2 separate regions of the Homo sapiens genome follow, and region 2 is linked to region 1. Evidence: fine-mapped expression QTL. A gene starts in region 1. The other region holds a variant in brackets. All regions are shown on one strand. Distances are between the middles of the regions. Region 1 holds the start of KIRREL3 (kirre like nephrin family adhesion molecule 3). Region 2 overlaps KIRREL3 (kirre like nephrin family adhesion molecule 3).

Region 1 (4,384 bases):
GCTCAGAACACTCCAGGAGCACAAGGCATTAAGAACTGCATGATGTTATGGTTTCTTCCTAGCGCTCTCAGGACTCGGGGTAGATAAAACAGAGCATTTAACCTCCATAGGTAAATATTTAAAGATTCACATGAAGCAGTCAAGAAACAGCTCCAGACCAAGAAAGAAATAAGCACAACAGAAGATGTACACTGTAATGATTCAGACGGCCAGGGAGGTACTTAGACACCTATAGCCTTCTTATGCCAATCTACATAAGTATCACGGATCAAGCTTCTAACTACACAAAAGGCTGATTAAAGCATGCACTGGTCCCATGCAAATGTGAGTTTGTGTGTTTACGGGGGGTTGGTTGGAAGATTCCCTCCTTCTCAGGGGTTCTATATCAAAACTTCCTGAGTGAACTGGTAAGAAGCAAAGACGAATGGGAGTGTGTGTGTGTGTGTGTGTGTGTGTGTGTGTGTGTGTGTGCTCATAAGCAAGCACATACACATCCAAGAAAGAGGGTAATCTTACCAAATGGTAATATAACTGAACCTGTCTCTATACCAGTGTTCTGAGAGAGTTCTTATTCATTCAGCCTGAAACTCTGGGGAAGGCAATTTATCTTCCTGCTGCTGTAGGGAGCCTTGGTGAGAAGCACACAACCATATGAATACATGAGTGTGTGTGTGTGTGTGTGTGTACATACATTATCATTATACACAGGCATTAGTATGCACATACAAATATGAAGAAGGAGCCCCTTCGGTTTCATCAGGAGGACCAGAAGCAAAGTTTGAACTGCACAGATAAGGAGAAAGTCTGCAGTGACCACAAGCACGGGTGGAAGAGCAGAAGAAGGAAGCCAGGTTTTTGCTTATATTTGGCTTCTCCCCGACAGGGGAGAAACAGAAGACATGCTGTTTGCTTGCAAAGCCAGCCACCCATGGCAGTGCTTTGCTTTCTCGAAAACTTTTACCCTTCATTTAATCAACAGATGGACGTGCTCTGTTGTGGATTTTTTCTGAGTCTTGCACCTCTAAGAGCTGTGTTGGCTGGCACAAATGCAGCCTCAGATGGCAGAGGTGCATTGGCATTCCAAAAGAGCGGGAAGGAGCCCATGTACTTGCCCCTCCAAACTCAATTCCACAGGTGACTTTTGATGCCTTTGGCCAACTAGGCACTCACATTCCCTCTCCCGAATTTCCCTCTCCTTTCTGCACCACTACCAGCCCCAGGGCTCCCAGTGGCAAGGAGCCTAGAGGTGGCAAAGTTCTTTCCGGAGAGTCCACCTGCTTCTCTGCCCCTGCTAGGCTGCAGAAAGGAAACCATCAGCACCACGGGCGAAATTTCATTTTATACCCTGAATTCAGTGCTGTGTAGGATTCAGAATTCAACCTAATTTAGGGAACTCGATGACGTTCAATGAAACTCTTTACAAGCTTTTCCCAACCACTGCAAATTACCCCCCACAATACATTCTGTAATTGCAACCCCCTTTTCAACGGTGCAAACCACACACATTCGCTTTTGAATACACTTGTGCAAGTCAAACCCTATTCAAGCTGAAATATCCACCTAAACCAAGCTCTCCCTCCCTGCCGTCTCCTTCCCTGGCCTGGGTCTGAAGGAGAGGAGGTGCCCAGAAGTTCAGAGCGGCATAACCACAGAGATACTACCTAATTAACATACCAGAAGCATAAAGAACTCATTTGCATTGGAGAGTTTGAGCTGGATATTGACAAGTGAGAGGAGAAAGTCATTCCCCTCCCCTCCCATACCCCTTCTTTCCAAAGGAAAATAAACAGTACCATTTTGTTGCATTCGCAAAGGCGAAGAGGCAATGCCAGAGCATCTCAGCCCGGCACCGAGAGACGCATCCATCAGTCCGAGTTCCCGAAGCCTGCCCACGTTCCTGCCCACAGCCTCCCGCGCCCTGACAACCCAGCCGACTTTCTTCCAACTCCAGCAGCGCAGGGGTCCTACCTTGACTGAAGAGGAAGAAGCAGACGAAGAGCAGATCGAGCTGGAAGGGTTTCATTCCTTAGCGCAGCGAAGGAAAGCCGGCGGGGTAACTTGGCTGTGGTTAGTTTCTCTTCCTTGGCGGCTCTCGGTGCTCAGCCTCCGCCGGTCCTCTCGGGTTCGCGCCTACCATCTGTCCGTCCGTGGGTCCCTCCGGGTGGCTTCGGTCTCTTTGTGCCTCTGGGTATCTGCAGCCAGCCGACACAAACTGCCTGTTCTTAGCCGCCTCGGGAAGCCGGGATTGTCAGCAATGTCCCCACTCGGAGAAGATCCATTCTCTGGCTCTTGGCATCCCAGGCACACGGCTTCCTCAGGCGGGCTCCTCCCACAGTGAGCGAGCGAGCTAGTGACGAGTGACAGAAGGACTCCTTTCACTGAAGCTGAGGCGAGGGGAGAGGGAGGGGAGACAGGTCATAATTAAAGAGGAAACACTCGGAAAAAGGAGATCTATGCAAAACGGACAGTGGGGGAAAAGGCTGTGTTCTTTCTTTTCCCTAAATAGGGAAAAATTCAGCTTTTGTCACCATTATTGACCAAAAGGCATCTTGAGCTTGGAGTGGAGCTGTGACTTTTTGTCCACACGATGTCCTGTTTAACAGTGAAGTTAAGGATGACTATCCACATGCATGTGCACAAAAACATGCACGCCCTGCCTTTGCAAAGGAACTGGAAACTGGGCTGAAAGGGAACTAGGAAGGGGGGGTGCGCATCTTTCCCTCGGAAGGACTTGGCCAATGTGTGCAGCGGGAGGCTCGGAGTTGGAGAAGAGATAAGCATGCTTTGCATTTCTGAGAGTTTCCTGTGGGTGGGTGGGTGGTTGTGGTGGGGGGGGGGGGTAGGTAATAAAACCTGAACATTTGGATCTTAGTTTGCTTTGCACTGCTCCTGGAAGACAAAATGCAGGAACTAAAGGGAAGGCAAGTAGGCTTGTGACACACACCCATTTATTATCATTATCCTGGTTTGTGCATTTCCTAACGAGGACAGGGGAGCAGCCTGTCTTTGCATTCAGAGCCTCTCCTCTAATGAGCGCTCCATCACTCTGAGCCTGTCTTTTCTCCAAGAGGTGCTGTGAGTCCAATTGCAAAGGAGAGGCCAAGGTCATAGACAACTGCGTCCTAAGGATCTTCAAGCCTTTTACCTGTCATGAAATTCACACTCCACACTCAAATCAAACTCGGTTTCCTCCAGGATATCAACATGAATTTATCTGGGTCTATTTACTTAATAGACATTTAGGCATGCTTGGTATAAGCAGGCCATGGAGGGAAGCAAAATAATAGGCACAGACCATGCCTTCAGAAGCTCATAATCTAGTGTGCAAGCAGAGTACACACACAAGATGCAAACTCTAAGGACATAACAAAACAACACAGAAAAATATTCAACGTTATGCACTGTGAGAAGGAGAGGTAAAGAGAGAGGAGAGGAAAATGAAAGACGCTCCCCTGACATGTGCCATTTAGCATTCAATTCTAAAATCAGTCATTACTGTCTTCAGTCCCTGGACCTTGGGGAGGTCTTTTGGGAAACTCTTAGCCTTTCCTCTTTCAGTAGTAGCACATCTTTTGAGGACTCTGCTCACTACAAGGCACATTCCAACTCCAAGTTTCCATGCGGATGTTAACTTTAAAAAATTATCCCTTGGTATTTGTGAACAAGAAAGAAAGAAGCAGGGGCATATAGAAGTGTGCTAGTAGGAGCTGACATCTGGTAGTTGACACCAAAGATCTACAAATTAGTAGGTGTCTGCTTTGTTGACTTTTCTATTCTTAACTTAATAGTTTATTTAACTGCATCCCTTAGAGGCTGTTAAACACAGCAAAGGGAAATTTGTAAGCAAACTTTGGGAGGAGAAACAGAAATGTTGAGCAACAGAAACTAAAAGGACACAAAAGAGGCAGCCCATTAGCTAAATTAACAAACAAGTTACTGAAGCAGTGTCAGCTGAGCCTGAGTCCATTAGCCTGGTGTAACAGATCATGCAATAAATGGAAGAGGCAAATCAAAAACACACAGAGGAGATGAAAAATAATTTTAAATAACATATGCCAAATAACACAGTAAGACTGAAAATAACTCTATGTATAGCGCCGTCACCTTAGTAGTAGCTTTGCATTAAGCCTATGGGGTTGTTGGGGAGAAATTTCAGGTGTCTGCGTGCCATTCTTGCAGGGAATAGGACAAATACTAGAATGCAGATTCTCTATCAAAGGTAGCAACATTTGACGTTTTAACTAAAGATTTATCCTTTAAGCTGTTGTTTAATTTTGAGTGCTAATTCCTCAATGGCCCAGGGCCCAGATTTGCTTAATTCAGCCCCCGAGGGAACTATTACAAAACCAGGGTCACAAGGCTAGTGAAGTGTGCAATACGCAAT
Region 2 (4,384 bases), 530 kb before region 1:
GCCGCCTCAGGGCTGTGCACCCACCCCCACTGCCCCTCCCTAAGGGCAGGGATTTGGCACTCACTTCTCTAGTTCCCCAGCACCGGCCTGGGAGGCCGGTCTTCCCAGGTATGGTTGTACACAGTGTACCCCACCCCATGGTTTTCCTGCTTGGGTGGCAGTGGCTGGCCACTCTGCTCTTTCCAAAGCCCCCAGGGCCTCCTCTGGGCAGTGGAGAGCCAGGCTGAGCTCTCGGAAATGGGTGGGCTGGAGGGCAGACAAGGGGTGGGGGCCCAAGCACTGGTGCTAAATATGGGGTGCCCGATGACAGGCAAACCGTCTGGAAAGGCCGAGAGTAGCCTGATTGCCTGGCAGCAAGGCCGCCTCGCTTCTCCCCGCTACTCACCTTCCCCACCTGCTGGGTCCCTTTTTTTTTTTTTTTAAAAAATCATGGCTCTGCTTCCCCTTTTGATAGCTGCTTGGGGCTCCCCATGGGCTGGTTGCCACCTGGCTTGAATAAGGGTGTGTGGGCCAGGTGGAGGATGCGCAGTGCTTTTTGCCCCAGTCCCTGCATCCAGCCTTGAGGCCAGAGGCCAGAGGGGTGCCCTTCACAGAGAAGGCCAGGATGAGCCTCGGCCACACCCAGTGGAGACTCTAGGCCCCTAAGCTGGGCAGATAGGTGCAGGGTGATGGGTGAGTGACCAGGGAGGGGGTGCCCAGTGGAGGGTGAGGGCCCTATGCATGTGGGCACTTATCCCTTTCCTGAGTGGGGTCTCCAGAGCTCCTCTTAGCAAAGGTGGTAAAAGGCGAGGCCAGTGGTCCTGGTGGTAGGGGTAGAGGGCAAGGGGCTCCAAGCAGACACAGACACGACTGTGCGTGCTAAGACCTTGCAACCCTCCTGCCTGGCAGGAAGCTGCACTTAGGAAGGGTTCTTTCTGGGCTCAGCCTGTCCTCTCGCCCCTCCTCTTCCGTAACCCATCCTTCCTCCCCTGCTGTGTGGACTTGGGGGCTTTCCAGAAGAAAGAATGTGGTCTCCACTCTGGCGCCAGGCCCTCAGAAGTATGAGGAACAGGGAAGGAACCCACTGTCCCCAGACAGCCCAGGGTTGAGTCTCCAGGAAGAAGCTTGGAGGGGCCTTTTCCTGCTCTGTGCCTCTGCAGCCGACACCCGCTGGGAGCCTGCAGTGGGCACTGCCCAAGGCCCCATCCGGCAGTGTGGCTCGCCCTGCACCCTGGAGGCTGTGACAGTGGCCTGTTAAGGAGAAGCATGGCCAGCCTGTGCTGGGGGAGGGACTGGGTGCTTCCTCTCCTGCCCTTCCTCCTGGGGAAGGGGCCTGGTGCCCTCCAGGGCTGAGGCTCATCCCTCCCCTACTGGTCCCATGGTGGAGTCACAGAGAGAATGGTCGGTGAGCAACCCAGAAACTTTGAGAACAGGCCTGGTGTTTTATGAAATAGCTGTATGACCCCTGGGGCAGGGAACTGGGGTTCCCCCTGTGGGACAGGAGCCAATAATAGTAGCTCACATTTATCCAGTCCTTACTCCTGCCCTTGACAGGGTGCTTCTGATGCATAATTTCTTGTAAGTCACTCTGCAACCCTAACAGACATCCGTGATCATTATCACTGCATTTTGCAGCTGGGGAAACTGAGGCAGAGGGTGACATCACCATGTTATGTTACGGATCCCAGGTTTGAGCTAGGCCTTCAGAACCATGTGGCCAGCCTAACTATGACACCGATGTCTGCATATGGGAAACGCGAGGTCCATAGTGGGGTGGACCTTGCAGCCGTGTGGATCCAGTGAGGGGGTGACAATCCCAACAGCAGTGCTTGTTGCAAGCTCGCTATGTGCCAGGCGTGTTTCTCATTCAACTCCTCACAAGCACCCCTTAAAGTGGGTGCTGCTGTCGTTCCCATTGTATGGCAAGGACAGGGAGGCACGGCAAGGTGAGGTCACGCAGCTGGAAGGTGGCAGAGCCCGGATCCAAATTCAGGCTGCCAGCTCCTGAGCCCACGGGGATAATCATCCACCATGTGACAGCCACTGAGGGCGTCAGACCCGACAGCAGCCAGGGCTGCCCTGAGGGGTCTTTTCTGGGGTCCTTGGAGGCTGCCTGATTTTGTGTGTGCTCCCAGCTTCTCTTCCTCTCTGCGGCTGATGCTCTGGCCCCTCCTCATATGTAGCCTCTCTGGGGAAGTCAGGAGTGCTGTTGGCCTATGGCAGGGCTCCTTGCAGCCCTGGGGGAGGAGGGGGTGGGCTGGGTCCCTGGGAGGGGAAGCAGAGGGGTTGGCTCGGACAGCCCCCAGAGCCTGCTCCATAGGAGCCCTGGATTGTGTAACCTACTGGGTATACTCCACATCACAGGCTTGTAGCTTCTCCCTGCCCGGCACACAGCCCCGTGCCTGGGGAAGCTCCACTGACGTGTGCGGGCTCTGCTGGTCACCCCTTTGGTCTCCATGAGAACCACTGGCCGTGGGGTGGACAGTTAGGATGGTGGATGACCATGGTTTGGAGGAGAGGCCCAGAGAAATGAAGTGCCTTGCCTTGGGACACAGGGCCTC[T/C]TCCCATGCTCATGTCCAGGGACACATTGAGGGTCTCAGGCCTCTGCTGCTCCCTGGACAAGCCACAGAGGGGCAGGAGACCATCTGAGGTGACTGTCCCCTGAGGAATCTGTTTCTCTTCCGGAGCGTCTGATCCAACACCTTCATTTTGCAGACGAGGAAACAGATGCCCAGGGAGTGAGTTGCCTGAGGTTATGCAGTGGAAGCTGGAACCCAGGCCTGCGACTGCCTGGCGCTGCCGTTCCCGTCACAGGCCCAGGAGCATGGATCGGGTCCCCCGCCCTGCTGTGCAGTAGTATGGTACCAGGCTCTCCGAGGGGCCTTCACAATGTAGACAAGGATGACATGTTGAGCTCAAGGTGATCCTGGGACAGGTCCAGCAGAGTGACCCTGACCTCTCTCTCCACCTGATGGCATGTGTCCTCTGCAGGACATTGACTCTGCTAGGGTCCAGGCTGGCCCAAGTTCAGGGAGGGACAGGACAGGTGCTCAGACTGGAAGGAAAGCCCCTATCCTTCCTTTTCATTCTCCTCTGGACAACTCTCTCTCTGTGTTATATCCTTGTATTACATAACAGGACAGGGTGGCTTCAGCCCAGGACATAAGGGAGAGGCTTGTCTTCCAAGAGGCAGCCATCCCTCCCTCCCCCTGGACTTGTGTCTGAGGGAAGGAGTTTGCCCTGGGTTCTGGCACCAGGTGCTGGGTTCTTTGATCGGCAGCCCTGGAGTGACCTCTTGGCAGGTGGTCAGTTTGGGACAGGAAAGACACACCCTCAGAGTGGGGACGGGCCTGCCTCACATCCTCGGATGACCAAGGCCCTGCTTATCTTTCCAGGATTGCTTAGAGGACTGGTGGGTAGGGGGAACCAGGCCGTGTATTTCCCCAGTCTCTGAGGACAAGGAAAACCCTCAGACCTGAGGCGAGCGGGCGTTCTGGAGGCTGGGCCCCCAGCTGCGGAGCTTGGGGGACCGGCTTGCCCTAGGAGGAGCATGGGCAAGGGCAGAGGCCAGGGTGTCAGGAATTGTGGTTCCAGGCCTGGCACTGCCCACTCCACCACTGAGAAGGACAGTCACTTCCCCACCAGGCCTCAATTTTCTAGCTGCAGACAAAAGAGGTTGGCCCAGGTATACTGTAAGGCCTCATTCATCTTAGAGGCTCTGTGGTACATTAACCCCATCTGGGACTCTATGCACAGTTTTGTTGAGTGGAGTTTGGTGGGGGCTGTTTAAAAATGTACCCAGAATTTTGTTTTTATTCAGGTAGAGGGAGGCCAACAGATCAGGAGACAACTGCCGTTGAAAAGACAGTTTGCGGCCGGGCGCAGTGGCTCAGTCCTGTAATCCCAGCACTTTGGGAGGCTGAGGCAGGTGGATCACCTGAGGTCGGGAGTTTGAGACCAGCCTGACCAACATGGAGTAACCCCGTCTCTTTTAAAAATACAAAAAAAGAAAAAAAAATTAGCTGGGCATGATGGCACACGCCTGCAATCCCAGCTATTCTGGAGGCTGAGGCAGGAGAATCACTTGAGCCCAGGAGGTGGAGGTTGCGGTGAGCTGAGATCACGCCATTGCACTCCAGTCTGGGCAACAAGAGTGAAACTCTGTCTCAAAATAAATAAATAAATAAATAAAATAAATAAAAAATAAAAAAAGAAAGAAAAAAAGAAAAGACAGTTTGCTACTCATAGTTCCCAGAGGAAGGGGAGGCCCCAGGGTCAGTTGGGGCTGGGGTGGGAGGTGTGGGGAGAGTGTGGGCACAGCCTCTGTTGTGGCTTGCTTTCATAGGAAGGAATGGTGAGGTAGGGTTGGTGGCTCAGCAGGTTTAGGATTGGATAGCTTGAATAA

The links. PIP is the estimated chance that this variant, and not a neighbour inherited with it, causes the effect.
Region 2: its variant is the best candidate, but not a certain one, in a credible set for the expression of KIRREL3 in nasal epithelium (TOPMed, PIP 0.67).

Annotation. Positions count from the first base shown.
Region 1 is chr11:126,998,487-127,002,870 of GRCh38, forward strand. KIRREL3 (kirre like nephrin family adhesion molecule 3) reads right to left here and starts at 2,284. Exons shown (of 17, transcript NM_032531.4): 1 at 1,969-2,284. The coding sequence starts at 2,023.
Region 2 is chr11:126,467,224-126,471,607 of GRCh38, forward strand. The region is part of intron 5 of KIRREL3 (kirre like nephrin family adhesion molecule 3); the gene reads right to left. Among named protein-coding and RNA genes, the nearest start is that of KIRREL3-AS1, 74 kb to the right of the region's middle. RefSeq lists an enhancer at 1-168. The variant T/C (reference allele first, on the strand shown) is at 2,541.